Homo sapiens: one gene and its partner. Each later gene encodes a partner of the first gene's protein in a complex. Each region holds a gene or a part of one and is shown on either strand. Other genes may lie near its edges. A codon is read from its position in the direction of its gene.

Region 1 (8,850 bases):
CAAGCAAGGGGGACAACAGGGGCAAAAGCAGAAAGTCATAAAGTAGGCTGGGCATGTTGACTCGTGCATGTAATCCAGCACTTTGGGAGGCCAAGGCAGGTGGATCACCTGAGGTCAGGAGTTTGAGACCAGCCTGACCAACATGGTGAAACCCTGTCTCTACTGAAAGTACAAAAATTAGCTGGGCATGGTGGCGGGTGCCTGTAGTTTCAGCTACAAGGGAGGCTGAGGCAGGAGAATCGCTTGAGCCCTGGAGACAGAGGTTGCAGTGAGCCAAGATTGTGCCACTGCACTGCAGCCTGGGTGACAGAGTGAGACTCCTTCTCAAAAACAAAACAAAAGCAAACCAGAAAGTCATAAAATAGCCCAGTGTGCGAGTGGAACTACACGCCCTGGGTTGAGCTGTAGTACAGGCCGCAGTAAGGTGGCAAGCGTCAGGGATAAAGCTGAAGAGGTTGGCAGAGACTGGATCACGGAGGTCCAATTTTTGCTTCTGAAGGTTCTCTCTGGCGATCCTTGGGGTGAGGAGAGACTGCAGTGGGCTAACATGAAGGCCAGTGTAAAGGTGATTGCAAGATTCCAGTTAAGATGTAATGAGGTCTAAATCAAGTCTGTGACTGTGAAGATACCAGAGATGTTGACCCACATCTCTTATTTTTTTCCTAACATTTTATGATGAACATTTTCAAACATTCAGAAAATCAAAGTAATTGTACTGTGAACACCCATATATCTACCACCCAGATTCTACAATTAGCATTTTACTACACTTGGCTTTATCACATATGTCCAGCCATGTATCAACACTTTATGCATTTCAAAATTATGAGCATGTGTACACATTCCTTTAAACATTTCATCATGCATGCCATTTACTAGAGTTCAATATGTGAACCTTTTTAAAGTTCAAATATCCATAAAATGAAGTAAATGCAAGCGTCTTAAGAGTATAATTTCATGTTTTGACAAATGTATATACCTGTGTAATCCACATCCCTATTGAGATACGGAACACTACCGTAATCTCAGAAAGTTGCCACATGTCCTTTCCCAGTCAATCACAGCCCTTTCTCCTTTCAGAGTTGGCCTTGAGTTTGGAATGTGTGAAAATAGACATTCCAGGTGAAGGGAACCTAGGTGGCTCCCTCTCCAGCAAAGGCATGGAGGCAGGTAACTAGGGAAGAACACATAAATGTTAGTAAACAAGTTCGGATGGATGCCCTTCAGTCTTCCACCTCTCTCACTACTAAGCCCCGTCTTTTTGGGTCAAAGCATAAAACATTGAAGTAGAGAGGAGTTGAGTCAAGGGACTGTCAGGCCGCAGGAGCTAACAGTCTTCAGGGGAGGAGGAGACAGAAGCACTGACAGTCACAATTTAGTGTAACAAATGTTGAATGTTATCTTGTACCAGGGTCAGGGCTATAACCAAGGGAAGGGCAGAAAGTTAGGTAAAATACCACAAATATGCCACAAGCGTTTGTTGTATGTGTGTATGTCTGAGAGAGAGAAGTGATAAGGTGAGTGACTCAGACTCTTGGTACTGGAGGAGCTCAAAGGAAAAGAGAGAAGAGTATTTACCAGCCATGAAAAGTTTTCTGGAGGTAAAGTCTTAAGGGATGTTGACTGTTAAGTGTGGTAGACATAAAGATGTTTCAGTTACAGATAACAGAAAATGTGAGTCAAGCAGGGACATTGGCCCATGTGACTGGTAAGTCTAGAGTTATGTGAGTTTTAGGTACAGTTTGATCAGAGCTTTGGTCCTGATGATCTCGGTGCTCTCCTATTTTGTGTGTGTTAGCTTTGTCTTCAGAATACTTCTTCATGGTCACAATATGACTGTCTGTAGCAGTTTAAAAATTGAGCTGCTATAGTAAATTCTTGGGCATTCTCAATACTTGAGTATGGAACATGTGCATGTGGAAGGAAATAACATTGCACTTTATAAACACTGTATTGCAAATGGAAAATGCAATGTCTTAAATAAAACTATTTAAATTTGGCACCATAAAAAAAGAACTAAGGAGAAGAATATTTATATTAACCTTCTAGAAAGTTGTAGAAAATAGTTTTTTGTGTTTTTTTTTGAGACAGTCTTATTCTGTTATCCAGGCTGGAGTGCAGTGGTGCGATCTCGGCTCACTGCAACCTCTGCCTCCCCGGTTCAAGTGATTCTCCTGCCTCAGCCTCCCGAGTAGCTGAGATTACAAGTGAGCATCACAATGCCCAGTTAATTTTTGTATTTTTAGTAGAGATGGGGTTTCGTCATGTTGGCCAGGCTGGTCTCGAACTCAAGTGATCCTCCTGCCTCAGCCTCCCTAGTATATCCTTCTCACTTTTTATTTATTTATTTATTTATTTATTTATTTATTTATTTATTATTTTGAGATGGAGTTTGGCTCTTGTCATCCAGGCTGGAGTGCAATGGCGCAATCTTGGCTCACTGCAACCTCCACCTCCTGGGTTCAAGCGATTCTCCTTCCTCAGCCTCCCTAGTAGCTGGGATTACAAGTGCTGGCCACCATGTCCAGCTCATTTTTGTATTTTTAGTAGAAAGAGGGTTTCACCATGTTGGTCAGGCTGGTCTCGAACTCCTGACCTCAAATGATCCACCCGCCTAGGCCTCCCACAGTGCTGGGATTACAGGTATGAGCCACTGCGCCTGGCCTTATTTTTTATTTTTATTTTTTGAGACAGGATCTCACTGTATCACCCAGGCTAGAGTGTAGTGGCATGATCATATCTCACTACAGCCTTCAATTCCTGGGCTCAAGTGATCCTCCCACCTCAGCCTCCTGAGTAGCTAGGACTATAGGCATGTACCACTACACCTGGCTGATTTTTGAAATTTTTTGTAGGGATAGGTCTCACTGTGTTACCCATGCATGTCTTGAACTCCTGGACTTTTTTTTTTTTCAGTCTGTCGCCCAGGCTGGCATGCAATGGTGCAATGATGGCTCACTGCCGCATAGACCTCCTGGGCTCAAGTGATCCTCCCACTTCAGCCTCTCAGATAGCTGAGACTACAGATGTGAGCCACCACGCTGGGCTAATTGAATTCTTGGCGTTAAGCAATTCTTCTGCCTTGGCTTCCCGAAGTGTTGAGATTACAGGTGAGTGACTATGTCCAGACCCCTACACACTTTTAAAAAAATATTTTTGGATTTTAAGGGGTTTTTGTAGAGTTCTGGAATCCTGTAAATTCTTTTCAAATTCTGTTTTGCTTTTTTTTTTTTTTTTTTTTTGAGATGGAGTCTCACTCTGTCGCCAGGCTGGAGTGCAGTGGTGTGATCTCGGCTTACTGCAACCTCCGCCTCCCAGGTTCAAGCGATTCTTCTACCTCAGCCTCCCAAGTAGCTGGGACTACAGGCGCCTGCCATCAGGCCCAGCTAATTTTTGTATTTTAAGTAGAAACGGGGTTTCACCATGTTGGCCAGGATGGTCTCGAACTCCTGACCTCGTGATCCACCCGCCTCTACCTCCCAAAGTGCCGGGATTACAGGCATGAGCCACTGCGCCCGGCCATTTTTGGTTTTTTATTTTTAAATGGAATCTCACTCTGTTGTTCAGGCTTGAGTGTCGTGGCACCATCAAGGCTCACTGCAACCTCTGCCTCCGGGTTTAAATGATTCTCTTGCCTCAGCCTCCTGAGTAGCTGGGATTACAGGCGCTGGACACCATGCCCAGCTAATTTTTATATTTTTAGTAGAGACAGGGTTTCGCGATGTTGGCCAGGCTGGTCTCAAACTCCTGACCTCAAGTGATCTGCCTGCCTCGGCCTCCCAAAGTGCTGGGATTAAAGGTGTGAGCCACTGTGCCCAGCCTAATTCAGTTCAAATTCCAAGCTAGGGGTTTCATATCCTATATGTGTAGAACATGACAAATATTTACCAAATATACTTTCATTAAAATCTGAAAGGTGAAACCTCAATTTAAAAAAAAATCTCCTACTTAAAAACAATGAAGTTTTAGTTTGCCACATTATCTTTAAAATACAATATGCCTTATTGTGTAGCATATCTCAAACTTTAAAATATTTAGTTTAGGCCAGGAGCAGTGGCTCACGCCTGTAATCCGACACTTTGGAAGGCCGAGGCGGTGGATCACTTGAGGTCAGGTGTTTGAGACCAGCCTGGCCAACATGGTGAAACCCCGTTTCTACTCAAGATACAAAAATTAGCCTAGCATGGTGGCGCATGCCTGTAATCCCAGCTACCCGGAAGGCTGAGGCAGGAGAATCGCTTGGACCCAGGAGGCGGAGTTTGCAGTGAGCCCAGATTGTGCCACTGCACTCCAGCCTGGGCGACAAAGGGAGACTCCATCTCAAAAAAAAAAAAAATTACTTTAAATGTGATTTAAAGCCTAGTTGTTAAAGTGTAAGTGTTCTCAAGGACTTTAAGATGTCTTTATGCCACAGTTGTCAAATATAATATTTCTAGAATTTAAAGTCATTTTTTAGCACTAAAATAACTACATGCAGGGCGGAGGTACTTGGACAAGGAAGGACCTAAAAAAAGTGTTCATCACCAGAAAGTTTATTTGTTCATCATCACCAACATTAAGAGGCCAATGGCCAGGAAGAAGCCAATTGTTGAAACCATTCTAAAACGACTGTGTTGCTTGGGAAACCAGAGAAGTTGGTGAACATTTGATGCGCCGAAAGCCACATCACTCAAATTTTCTCGCCCTCCAAATCTAGCAAAGAAAAAGAGAGAGGAAGCAGGGATAGAGGGGAAGAGGGGGAGGGAGGGGAGAGAGGGAGAAAGGAGAGAGGAAAGGCAAGAGAGAGAGACACACAGAGAGGGAGAGAGAGGGAGAGGGCAAAGGAGAGGAGAGGGAGAGAGAGGAGAGAGAAGGGGGGGCAGAGAGAAACAGAGGAGAGAGAAGAGGGGAGAGAGAGAGACAGAGGAGAGAGAAGAGGGGAGAGAGAGAGAGATTGAGAGAGAGAGAGAGAAGAATGAGAGATGGGCAGGGATCTGTCCAAGCAGGACTTGAGCGCCAAGCCCCGCCCCTGTTTCCCAGGTAACCTGATAAACAGACTCCATCTTTTCCTCTGTGAACTCGGCTAGGTGTTAAGAGGCAGGCAGGAAGCAATGGACAGGGAGTCCGAGTGAGGTTGTGCTCTTTCCTGAGAGAGGGGTTCCGCAAGGGATTGGAGGCGTCTTTGTAGCCAGGTACAGCTTTCCCCTTAGAGATGAGCGCTCTTGGAGAAATGAGAATGGGGAGAAATCGTCCATGAACATGGAGATTGGACATCCCCACGAAGGAAAGGATGATTTAGGAGACAAGAGGGTCATCATGGGAACAAAATTTCCCATGGAGTTGGGGATCAGAGTAGGATTAGGAAAAGAAGATTCCCGATGCGGGGAGAGCCCTGTGGTTAGTAATAAGTGTGAGGGAAGGATGGCACCACCAGAAACAAAATTTCCATTGAGCAAGGGGCTTGAAATGGGATTAGAAAGACAGAATATTTCTAGGACTGTCATGCAGAGGGGTAGTTTAGGAGTCGACAGTGTCTCAGCTTCACAGGGAACAAAACCTTCTCTGTTGCCAGGAAGAATGGGGTTAGAAAATGAGAGTCTTCTTGCAGGATATACCCATGAACGGATAATACAGCCTCCTTTGGGCAGGGTGTGTGGAAGTTCACAGGCTGCAGGGAGCAGGAGAGCTCCTTTGGCTAGTGGCCCTGAAGGGGTAGAGGAATTAGTGGGAAAGCCTGCTTTCGTTATGGAACCAAGACAGGAAATGGAAAAAGAGTCTACCTGTGTTTTAATGAAACCCAACACAGAGATTAAGCTTCCTGTGGAGGTGGACATTGGACTAACCCAAGCCGAGGGGCCAGATGAGACTAAGAATACAGAGCCCCAAATGGGCTTGGTGATAGAACCTCCCCAATGCCAGTTTGCCCAACAACATGAACAGAGAAAGGAGGCTGGAAACATTGAATCAGGAGTGGAACCTCCAGATCGCATCAGACCCATATACTCTGGGAAGTTTTTTGATCGGACCCCTTGCTGGCCAAGTGTAAGTTTTTTTCCACTTTCCATAGGAACTAAACTGTGTATAGCCATGTCTTTATTGAGATGATAAAGTGATAAAATTTGTTTTGGTTTGAAGAGACAAATCACAAGGATTTTATGAGATTCCTATATTTCTTGCCCCACTGGAATCTTTGCAGATGTTACTTAGATTTCTGATTCTCTGCCTCCCTTCCTAGATGTCAGCTTTGTTTTCTCTGCACACCGGTGGTTTGTTCTGATTTCTCTTTTCTCCTTTAACCTTCATTTCATTTTCCTCAAGCCTCTCACATATTGAAATACATGAAGATACATGCTGTGCCCTAATATTCATACTATGAATGGAAAAGAAAAGTGTTTCTTTTTCCATTCATTGTTTAGTCTGTGAGTTATTTGTTCTTTCAGCAAAGACTTGTGGTAGCCATTGTGCCAGGTACAGGACAAACTAAATTGAAAAGTACATGGTCCCTACCTCTAGGTTTAGGCTCACTCCAGTAATGGAGACAGATAACTAAAGGAATAGTATACAGTTATCTAAATTTATAAAAACACACATGATTCTTCCTTCATAGAAGTACACTCTGAATACAGAGCTCAGTGTAAAGATTGCACAATTCTGTTTAGAAGAGATGGGAAAAGCTTAATAGGGAAAGTAATATTTGAGCTAACATCGAAAGGTGTCAGTATTTGTCTGAAGAAAGAATGAGGTTAGAGCATTTTGGGCATAAAAAGGTATAGAGCACAACCAAAGCTTCCTATGTTCGAGAGGCATAAACAGTTGTATTCAGCCAGCAGGGTGTTGAGAGATGAAGATGAAGAAGAAATATGTAGAAGACATCTAAAGGCCCAGAATATAGGGATAAAACATATGGATACAGTATCAATGGTGGATCTTAATAAGGGTAAAAATAAATAAAATTTGCCTTTTAGAAAGATAATTCTGATATCAGTAGTTATGATGGACTGGAAGGGGGAGATACTGAATGACAAGTAGGTAGTTAGAACAACATTCCAAAGTTCTGATGGACTGGAATTAATGTAGAGTTAGAAAGAATAGAAAGGAGACTGCACTTTTGAGAGGTTTTTAGATGACATTTTAAAAAATTGCCACTCAGTTGTGGATCTACGTGGTGAGTAAGGGAAGTTGGTGGATGACTCAGGAGTTTCTGTGTTGATAATGATCTCTTTGGGTTTGGTGGCAAATGAATGTCCAGTGTTGGCTATCTTCAATATGAGATGACAGGTAAAGAAGCCAGGGAAACACTTGGTAATATGAGACAATTGATGCCCCATGGGTGTGAATGGGAGAAGAAAGTCAAGGCAAGAATCTTGGGAAACATTGACATGAGGTGGTCAGTGAAAAAGATGTCAATAAGGTGAGTTCTTGAGGGCAAGGACTATATCTTGTTCATTGTTTACCTTCATGTCATACCACAATACCTGGCTTATGGTGGTCATTCAATAAATACATGTTTGATAAATAGAAGGAAACCCGGATGATTAAATGGGAGAAAGACCAGTCGGAGAAGAAAAAAGTAAGTCTGAGACATTGGTATTGAGAAACATAAGAAAGTGTCCTTAAGTTATAATGTGAGTAAGAGATTCCACACACTGAAATTTGAAAATAAAACTCAGCTGAAGAGGTCACAGGGCTTCCACAGAATTTTGTCTGGGTTTGAAGACTTTTCCCCTTCAGACTCAGAATGTTCTTTTCTTCTTTGTCTCACACTGCTTTCTGGTTTCCTCTTTGGGTTTTCCCAGCCACTTTACTTGACCACACCGGTTCCCATTTCTGGATTGGTTCTGCAATTTACAGCTTCTGATCTGATCTGATCTCACACACATGCAGACACCAGCTTCCAGTTTCCAGCACAGGCAATTCTAAAACCTCTGCTTCCTCCCACTTCGCATACCTTCCTTTCTAAATGTGATAGGACAAGAAAGAGAGTGTCAAGGAGAGAGTGACCAGCAGTGTTAAATCATCTCTGATAGGCCTTGTGCAGTGGCACTAGCTGTAATCCCAGCACTTTGGGAGGCTGAGGCAGGAGGGTTTTTTTGTTTTGTTTTGTTTTTTGAGACAGAGTCTCACTCCATCACCCAGGCTGGAGTGCAGGGGTGCAATCTCAGCTTGCTGCAAACTCGGCCTCCCAGGCTTAAGCGATTCTTGTGCCTCAGCCTCCCAGTAGCTGGAATTCTAGGAGCATGCCACCACACCCGGCTAATTTTTTTTCCTTCTTTTTTTTCTAAATTTAATTTTTGTATTTTTAATAGAGAAGGGGTTTCGCCATGTTGGCCAGGCTGGTCCCCTACTCCTGACCTCAAGTGTTCGGCCCACCTTGGCCTCCCAAAGTGCTGGGATTACAGGCATGAGCCACCACGCCCAGCAGGCAGCAGGATTTCTCGAGGCCAGGAGTTTGTCATCAGCCTGGGCAACATAGCAAGACTCTGCCTATACAAAAAAGAAAAATTAGCCAGGTGTGGTAGTATGTGCCTGTAGTCCTAGCTACTTGGGAGAGGTGCGAAGATCATTTGAGCCTGGGAGTTCAAGGTTCCAGTGAGCTATGATCACACCACTGCATTCCAGTCTGGGTGACAAAATGAGATCCTGTCTCTAAAAATAAAGTAAAAATAAGATTAATTAACTTTGGACATTAAGAAATTACCAACATTGTTAGAACGACATAATAGAAAAAGAATTCAGATTATAATATACTGAAGAGCGAATGGGTTATTAGAATCGGAGAAAGCTATCATGAAATTTTTTTCTCTTAAGAAGTATGACAGTGAAGAGAAAGAGTAAATATTCCACTTAGAAATCTTATTATTTAGTGAATCA
Region 2 (8,600 bases), on another chromosome or scaffold:
ACGCAAGGCCATCTCAGGTGGGTGTGGGCCTGGGCTGGGCTGGAGAAGGCCGCCCCTCCCCACAAGGTTCTTGCAGTGTGAGAGCCCCTGAGGAGGCTGCCACAGGGGCCCACTTTTCCTGCTCCAGAACAGGCTAGCGGCCTGGGGGGACCTCCTCTGCCTCCCAGCTGCTTCCAGGAGCCCAGCTTTTCCCAAGACGAGGCGGTGCCTTGCCTGCCTGTTCCCATTTGGCCACATCAGACAGTCGCCAACGTTCAGGGAACGAAAGGGAGCCTTGCCTGGCTTCCCTGACACGTCTGAGGGCAGGTGGGTGTGCCCAGGGGAAGGCTAAGGGGGCTTGGGGTAGCCCGTACATCTGCCTACCCCCAGGCTATGCTGGCTTCATTCCCCGTTTCACCTGGGTAATGGGGTTGAATTACCGAGACGGCGTCATGCAAGCCATGGACGAATTCGACAAGAGCCAGGTAGGAAAGCGCCATCCAGGGCCTGCTCCCAGCTCACACACACACTTCCTCTCCTGCCTGGCAGCTTCCCTGGAGGGTGCCTTGAAGGCCAGGTTCCCTGAGAAGCCTGAGGAGGGGGCTCTGCCTGGCTCTCTCCTGTCCCCGGAGGTGCCGCCCCAACCCCTCTCTCCTGAGTCTTGCTTGGATCCCTGCACTCAAGTTTTGGAGTCGGGGGTAGGGGGATGCAGAAGGCTGGGAGCATTAGCAGCTTTCCCACGGAGTGCCGGCCCTCCGGCCAGGCCCCCACTGGGACAACTTGACTATCTGTTTGCCTGCCGGGGAGGGAGCTTGTTAGCACCTTCCTGTCTCCCCAGTTCCTGTTTAGAAACCCCCACTGTGACCTGGGCGAGAAGCTGCCTGGAACACACTGGCCCAGCAACCACATCTACAGCAGCCAAGGCCTGATCCCCTTCTACATGGGGTTCATCCCCGGTGAGTAGAGTGGGCAGGGTCACATGGACACACCCCGGCCAATGTGGGGAGGGACGGCTCTACCTGCTCACCCTTCATTGCTGGTTCAGGACCACCTGTCTGACCATTACCAGGGTCCCACCTTGGTTGGGGTAGGATTGTCTGCCATCCTCCCTACCCCTTTTGGAAGGGGGGTCACTGGACCCACCTAAGTCCCAGACACAGGCCGAGCCCCAAGGTTGGGTACCTGGAACAGGACAGGCCTGCCTTCAACAAGCAAGTTCCCCACCAAGCAGATACCCAGGGCCCAGGGCAGCCCCACACTTCTCTGAAGCCTGGGTGTCCAGCCCATGCTGGTCCTGGGCACATAAGCCCAGCTCAGCTGCAGCCTGGCTCCCCGCAGCCATGCAGGACAACTACGCCCTGACATTCGGCAACAGCACCCGGAGGGCCTACTGGAAGGAATGGGCAAAGCGAAACCACACACTATGAAAATGCTTTAATGGTGGTGTCTGTACAGCATGGATGTGGACAGGGAAAACAGCAAGTGCACACAGTGGGACAGGCCACAGGACAGGCTGGGAGTGAATAAAGAGTTCACACTGCTTCCCTGCTTTCCCCAGTGACTGAAGGCTCTAGGCCACCTCCTCCTCAGCCTCCTCCTCGAACTCGCCCTCCTCCTCGGCTGTGGCATCCTGGTACTGCTGGTACTCGGACACCAGGTCATTCATGTTGCTCTCGGCCTCGGTGAACTCCATCTCGTCCATGCCCTCGCCCGTGTACCAGTGCAGGAAGGCCTTGCGCCGGAACATGGCCGTGAACTGCTCGGAGATGCGCTTGAACAGCTCCTGGATGGCCGTGCTGTTGCCAATGAAGGTGGCGGACATTTTTAGCCCCCGAGGTGGGATGTCACAGACAGCCGTTTTCACATTGTTGGGGATCCACTCAACAAAATAGCTGCTGTTTTTGTTTTGGACATTAAGCATTTGCTCATCCACCTCCTTCATGGACATGCGGCCCCTGAACACGGCGGCAACCGTCAGGTAGCGGCCATGGCGGGGGTCGCAGGCAGCCATCATGTTCTTGGCATCAAACATCTGCTGGGTGAGCTCGGGCACGGTCAGCGCCCGGTACTGCTGGCTGCCCCGGCTGGTCAGTGGGGCAAAGCCGGGCATGAAGAAGTGCAGCCGGGGAAACGGGACCATGTTCACAGCCAGCTTCCGCAGGTCAGCATTGAGCTGGCCTGGGAAGCGCAGGCAGGTGGTGACCCCACTCATGGTAGCAGACACCAGGTGGTTCAGGTCACCATAGGTGGGCGTGGTCAGCTTTAGGGTTCTGAAGCAAATGTCGTAGAGAGCTTCGTTATCAATGCAGTAGGTCTCGTCTGTGTTTTCTACGAGCTGGTGGACTGAGAGGGTGGCGTTGTAGGGCTCCACCACTGTGTCTGACACTTTGGGCGAAGGCACCACACTAAACGTGTTCATGATCCTGTCTGGGTACTCCTCCCGGATCTTGCTGATGAGGAGGGTACCCATCCCAGACCCAGTCCCCCCACCCAGGGAGTGGGTCAGCTGGAAACCCTGCAGGCAGTCACAGCTCTCAGCCTCCTTTCTCACAACATCCAGCACCGAGTCCACCAGCTCCGCGCCTTCTGTGTAGTGCCCCTTGGCCCAGTTGTTCCCAGCACCACTCTGACCTGTGAGAGAACACAGCTAATCATTTGTCAGCCAGGTAGACAGCACTACTGGTCACCGCCATGCGAAAAAAGCCGAGTGACATGGTGTGAGCTGACCACAGAATTCACCCTGGAGGTAGAGCAAACGGACCCTTCAAAGCCAAAAGACGGCAGCCTGCCCTGCTACGAATTAAGTCAGGGGCCAAACCTGACAGCTTAACAAACCCCTCCCCGGGGGGGCCACTGCCAATTCCCAAGGACAGAGGAACAGCCACTGCCCCAGCTCAGCTCCCTGCAGGGAGATTACGTGTGTGGCGGCTCCTCGCCTCGGCAGACAGCTGGACCTTGCTCCCAAAGCCGATTTAGTAGAGGGGATTGAGTGGCTCAGAGAAGAGGAGGGCGTCCAGGGGCCCCGGCTGCGCAGTTCCCACGGCGGTGCCCTTGGAGCAGCCCCTTGACCTTTGAGCCGCCGCCCAGTCCCCAGCCACGGCTCACCGAAAACGAAGTTGTCCGGCCGGAAGATCTGCCCGAAGGGCCCCGAGCGCACGGAGTCCATGGTGCCGGGCTCCAGATCCACGAGCACGGCGCGGGGCACGTACTTGCCGCCTGCGGGGACGGGAGGGCGTCAGCCAAGGCAGGGGCCGCGGGGTCCCCGGAGGGCGGTCGGGGAAGGGGCCGGGGCCTCACCGGTGGCCTCATTGTAGTACACGTTGATGCGTTCCAGCTGCAGGTCGCTGTCCCCGTGGTAGGTGCCCGTGGGGTCGATGCCGTGCTCATCGCTGATCACCTCCCAAAACTACAAGGGACGCGGGCGGGCCCGGGCGGGCCGGGGCTGAGTCACCGCGGCCGGTGCGCAGGGAGGCAGCCCCGCCCCGGACGGGCGCGGCAGCCCGGCCCTCCCCGCCCCTCCCCCGCCCCGCGCGCCCTGGCCGCCGGGTTCCTGGGGGCTTCGGTCGCCCGGCTCGGCCAATTCCCCGCGGAGGGGGCCCGGCGGCCGCAATGCGGGGGCGCCGCCCGGCCGCTGCTGCCGCCATCTTCCCCGGCCGCCCGCCCACACCGCCCGGCAGGCCCGCCTGGCCCCAGCGCCCCGGCAACTTACCTTGGCGCCGATTTGGTTGCCGCACTGCCCGGCCTGCAAGTGCACGATTTCCCTCATGATGGCGGCGGCGGCGGCGGGGAAGCAGGAGGAAGTAGACAAACAGCAGCAGAAGAGCGGGCGCGCAGAGTGCTACAACCGACGCTCCGCCAACGCTTATATACCCTCCCTGCCCGCCTCCGCTAGTCTCGGAATGGGCTGCCAGAACGAGGCTGGCAAGCTCCCTCGTTTGATTGGCCTTGCCCCCGTCAATCAAGCTGCCTAAGGTCCGCCTTTTTAAGCCAGTTTGGTCTTTATTGGTCAGCCGCAGCCTCCTATCTCCCTATCACAATCCCCCTCCTGGCGCCGCAGTGCTCCGTCCATTGGGTGTTTCAAATGATTGATTTGCCGTCTCATTGGCTGGCTGCCGGGAGCACGCCGCCAGGCTGGCGCTATTGGCTGCGCTGCTTCAGCGTCCTGGTAACCGCCGCAGTGCCGCGGCCGGCGCGCGGACGGGGTGGGGCGCAGGCGCGAGTGCGGGCTTCCGGTCGGGCGGCGGGCAGCTGCGCTGGGGGCGCCGAGGGAGGGCGGGCCCGACGGGCCTCGGGCAAGCGCAGTCTTGGCTCTGAGCCCGGGGCCTTTCGGGAGCCGGGAAGGGCAGGCTCGGTGGCGGCCCCACGTCCAGAGTTGCGCCCTCTCTGGCCTTGCGCCGGGACACGGCATCTGCGCGCTGGGCGGGTTCTGGAGCGGGGTCCGCACGGAGCGAGCCCGGGGCCTCCAGGCCGAGGAGGCTGCGATGCCTTAAAGGCAGGAAGATACACGGGCTCGGGGGCTGCGGCGGTGGAGGGGAGCTCTCCACAGAGCCGCAGAGGCCACGGAGTTTCCTGCTCCCGGGTGCCGCACGCCCACTGCCCTCGCGGTCGCGTGAGGGGAGCACGTGGGGGACGCCGCGCCCCGAGGGCCGGGGCGGAGGGCAGGGGAGGGGAGCGGAGGGGCGAGGCCTCCCCCGCAGCTGCGCGCCCTGCCCTGTTGTGGAGACGGCGCTGGCTCTGCGCCGGTCGCCTTGGTGCCTCGGCCCCGTGAGTGCGCGAGCTCCGTGGAGACCAGGACAGCGCCCAGACCTCCCTCGGCGGGTGGGCCCCGACCTCCGGGCTCCAGGGCCGGTATTCCAACCACAGGTCAGCGCGCTGGGGCTGAAACATACTTCTGTTAATGCTTTTCCTAATTTATGACTTGATTTTTACTTGGGTGGGAAAAGAAACTTAAAATGAATTACATGTGGTTGCGCCTGTTTAAAAACAAACGGGCTGTATTTTTGCAGCATTTTTATTTTACTTAATTTATTATTCTGAGACAGAGTCTCGCTCTGTCTCCCGGGCTGGAGTGCAGTGGCGCGATCTTGGCTCCCCGCCCCCCCCCAGGTTCAAGCGATTCTTCTGCCTCAGCCTCCCCAGTAGGTGGGACTGCAGGCACCCACCACCACGCCGCTAATTTTTGTATTTTTGGTAGAAATGGGATTTCACCATGTTGGCCAAGCTGGTCTGAAACTCCTGACCTCAAGTGATCCGCCCGCCTCGGCCTCCCCAAGTGCTCGGATTTACGGGAATGAGCCGCCGTGCCTTCTACATTTTTGTAGCTTTTTTCTTTTTTTTTTGAGATGGAGTTTTGCTCTTGTCGCCTAGGCTGGAGTGCAGTGGCGCAATCTCAGCTCGCTGCAACCTCTGCCTCCCCGGTTCAAGCAATTCGCCTGCCTCACCTTCCCAAGTAGCTGGAACTACAGGTGTGCACCACCACGCCTGGCTATTTTTTTTTTTTTTTTTTTTTGAGACAGAGTCTGGCTCCGTCGCTCAGGCTGGAGTGCAGTGGCATGATCTCGGCTCACTGCAACCTCCATCTCCCGGGTTCAAGCGATTCTCCTGCCTCAGCCTCCCGAGTAGCTGGGATTACAGGCGCCCGCCACCACGCCCGGCTAATTTCTGTATTTTTAATAGAGATGGGGTTTCACCATCTTGGCCAGGCTGGTCTGGAACTGACCTTGTGATTCATTCGCCTCGGCCTCCCAAAGTGCTGGGATTACAGGCATGAGCCACTGCACCTGGCTGTATTTTTGTAGCATTTTAAATAAATTACACCATCAGGTCGGCCCTGACAGTCTCCTGTGCTCTGGCCACTGGGCATCTGTCTCCCAATTGGAGGCTGTTGGAAACAACATCTGCTTATTTATTTCTCTCTTCCTGGAGGGACTGCACCTCTGTCTTCACCACATAATGCGCGATACCAGAACTCGGGACACGCAGCACCGGAGCATGCGCGGGGATCAGCATTGTCCTTCTGGGGCGAGGGCCTGCAGCTGTGCTCACTCCTCGGGGGTCTGTTGCCAGTTTGCCATCCTGTCCAGGAGGGTGGCCTCCCCCACAGATCAGCCCAGGAAGGCGGGCCTGGCTTCCAGTGACCACTGTGACACAGGCCTTGACCCTCAGAGGGACTGGGGTCCTGCAGCGGCCTGAGGGGTGCACAGGTTGCTGCCAGCCATCCCAGGTTTCTCCTAGTGCCCAGGGCATCCTGGGGTCCTGCAGAGTAGCTCAGCTGTCCAGGCAGTAGTCAGGGACATGTTGGAGTCTCATAACATTGAGTTGTCACAAAGGGGAGAAGGAGAAGCTCTGTTTTTTTCCTCAGTGAACTGTGCAGAGCCCAACTGAGGCTGCTCTTTGAGGTGTGTGGCATTCCTGCACCTTGTCAGAGTCTCCCAACCCCTCTCCAGTAAAGGCCCCTGCTTCCTGTGACCAGTGCCCACAGGGCTGGGAGGTCAGTGTGCCACCCGTTTCACAGGTGTCACCTGCCCAGGTGAGAGCCCCAGAGCTCGCCATGGCACCAGCTTGCCTACTTTGCCCTTGCATTGCCCTGGTGAGGTGGACACTGGCTGGGGACAAGACAGCAGTAGACACCCTGAAGCCTGGGCCTGAGCCCAACAAGGACAGCAGCCACCCCTGTTGCACAAAACTGGTTGGGGAAGGCTCTGTAGGTCCCACCCTGAGCCAAGGTGCCCTGCTGCAGGATGGAGAGGCGGGATAGTGTGGGGCAGGAGGACCAACTCCTGGGCCTGGGGTCTGTGGCCAGGCAGGATGTGGTCCAAGGAGGGCCAGAAGGGCAGGGAAGCGGGGCAGGCGTGGCTGTGGGAGTGCTGGGCACCTGCCCTCCTCCTCCTGCAGCTGTCGGAGGATCCACAACGAAGGCTCTGTTTACTGGTGGCCATGGTCCCAGTGGGAGGGTGTGTTACCGCCAGGCAGGGACAGCAGGCAGACAGTATTGGCTGCCTTAAAGGACCAGACGCCCAGCCTTTGTGGGAGGCCTCACCTGCCCTGGAAGGACAGGTGCATGGGGTGCTTCCTCCCTCTCTCCACAAGGGCCTCACTGATCCCCCCCCAAAGGACAGGGGAGCTCCCCGGCCCCTCAGGCTCCCCAGGGAGCTAGCCAGGCTTGTCCCCTACAGGGGTGCCAGACGGTTCTATGAGGCTGATGTCAGGTCCACAGGGGCGTCCTAGAATCACAGGGCTGTGAGAACCAAAGCTCTAGCTGCTGGGGGTCCCATTCTCACTGGAGCCCACCCCTGAGGCACCCCTGGCTCCCAGAGCAGGTGGTCACCTCCCTCGGTAGGTGAAACCAAGGCCCAGGAGGCCTAAGAGTTTGAGGGGTGGCTGGGGCAGAGGACCCAGGGAAGACTGGGGGCCAAGGGCACAGAGGGTCTGGGGGTCATGAGCAGGGGCAAAGGGAAACTGAGGGCAGAAAAGAACAGAGCCACAGAGGAGAAGTGGCCGTGGGGCCCCCTCAGGCCTCATCTTCCTGAGTGGCTGCACCTCTATCCCCTAGTGGGGTCTGACCAGGCAATCCTGGGAGGCTCTGGGAAGAGAGCTGCCCCCCAACAGGGCTGCAGTTCTGGAAGGGAGAACGTGACTGGCCACAGCAGCAGACTCAAATGAGCAAACTAGACCTGTCCCTGATGGGACCGTCCCCTCACCCACCCGTCTCTGTGTGCCTGAATGAATGCTCCAGTTCTGGGGTAACCCAAGGCTTTCTTCCCTTGGCGGGAGTGGGGGTTGGGTTAGGGCTGTGGGCAGCTCTGGGCTAGAGGTGGCAGGAGCCCCCCCTCAACTTCCTAGGTGTCCAGTTACCCATTGGCTGGCAGACAAGCCTTCCTGTGTGGAAACCCGACCACACAGCAGAGGGAGGGCCCCCTGGCCCCCAAGTCCTCCCCATGGGTGCTGTCCGCCCTCCTGGGCCCACCCCACGGACAGGCCTTCCCGGGACAGGGTCTCATTCTCCGTGGCAGTGGGAGGCCTCAGTGTGCCCCAGCCTGGCGGGTGAGACTGGCTTCCTGGTGGGTTCTGGGAGCTGAGCACCTGCCGTGGCCCAGCCCTGCAGAGAAGTGTCCCCGAGGGGCCCAGCCCAGGACCGGCTGAGAGACACAGAGGGCAGACAGACAGGTGGTGCCTCTGGGACCACCTGGCCCTCCAAGCCGTCAGGGTCCCTTCTCACACCCCACGCACCTGATGGGACTCCAGTCCCCACCCCAACCATGACATCCGCCGGGGCAGAGGAGCTCCGGGATCCCCCACACCCTGCACCACCGGCCCTGCTCCCTGCTGGCTGGGCTCTCCCCTGCGCCCCCAGGAGGGGCCCCAGCTCCCACTGTGGGAAGTCCCCGCCCCCCCAGGCCCGCCATTCCTTGGGAGCTTCTGTCCCCAGCGGCTGCCGTGAGAAACACACCTTGGGGTGGGCGGGCTCCTGTGCCTGAGCCCCAGGCCCCGGAGTGTCCACCAGGAGGCAGCATCGGGCTGCTTCCCCCACCTGCGCAGGCGGCCCCTGTCTAGGGGAGTGAGGACCGCCACCCCAGATAACAGCCTGGTTTATTTGCACAGAAGGGGAAGCAGGTGACCGG

Evidence for each region.
Region 2: the proteins of EFHB (region 1) and TUBB4B are in contact, whole or in part, in a cryo-EM structure (PDB 7UNG), measured with the Homo sapiens proteins. Residues at the interface, in NP_653316.3 of Homo sapiens: Tyr523, Gly524, Val525, Gly526, Leu528, Ile529, His530, Asn531, Arg532, Tyr537, Arg539, Asp542, Arg545, Ala546, Ala549, Ala550, Arg552, His553, Lys556, Tyr608, Asn624, Phe625, Trp628, Asp630, Lys631, Thr686, Leu687, Leu688, Ser691, Asp692; in NP_006079.1 of Homo sapiens: Asp26 (codon at 3,367), Glu27 (codon at 3,364), Asp31 (codon at 3,352), Pro32 (codon at 3,349), Thr33 (codon at 3,346), His37 (codon at 3,334), Gly38 (codon at 3,331), Asp39 (codon at 3,328), Ser40 (codon at 3,325), Leu42 (codon at 3,319), Gln43 (codon at 3,316), Thr55 (codon at 3,280), Gly56 (codon at 3,277), Gly57 (codon at 3,193), Lys58 (codon at 3,190), Ser78 (codon at 3,130), Gly79 (codon at 3,127), Pro80 (codon at 3,124), Phe81 (codon at 3,121), Gln83 (codon at 3,115), Leu215 (codon at 2,245), Lys216 (codon at 2,242), Leu217 (codon at 2,239), Thr219 (codon at 2,233), Thr221 (codon at 2,227), Asp224 (codon at 2,218), His227 (codon at 2,209), Pro243 (codon at 2,161), Gln245 (codon at 2,155), Phe270 (codon at 2,080).

What each region holds. Positions count from the first base shown.
Region 1 is NC_000003.12:19,930,401-19,939,250, reverse strand, and holds the start of EFHB (EF-hand domain-containing family member B), read left to right. Parts: upstream 1-5,033; 5' UTR 5,034-5,232; coding exon 5,233-6,021; intron 6,022-8,850. UniProt on the Homo sapiens protein: Microtubule inner protein (MIP) part of the dynein-decorated doublet microtubules (DMTs) in cilia axoneme, which is required for motile cilia beating.
Region 2 is NC_000009.12:137,236,506-137,245,105, reverse strand, and holds TUBB4B (tubulin beta-4B chain), read right to left. Parts: upstream 3,820-8,600; 5' UTR 3,746-3,819; coding exon 3,689-3,745; intron 3,386-3,688; coding exon 3,277-3,385; intron 3,196-3,276; coding exon 3,085-3,195; intron 2,611-3,084; coding exon 1,550-2,610; 3' UTR 1,407-1,549; downstream 1-1,406. Other genes in the region: CIMIP2A (ciliary microtubule inner protein 2A), read left to right, coding at 1-17, 370-464, 818-935, 1,318-1,406. UniProt on the Homo sapiens protein: Tubulin is the major constituent of microtubules, a cylinder consisting of laterally associated linear protofilaments composed of alpha- and beta-tubulin heterodimers.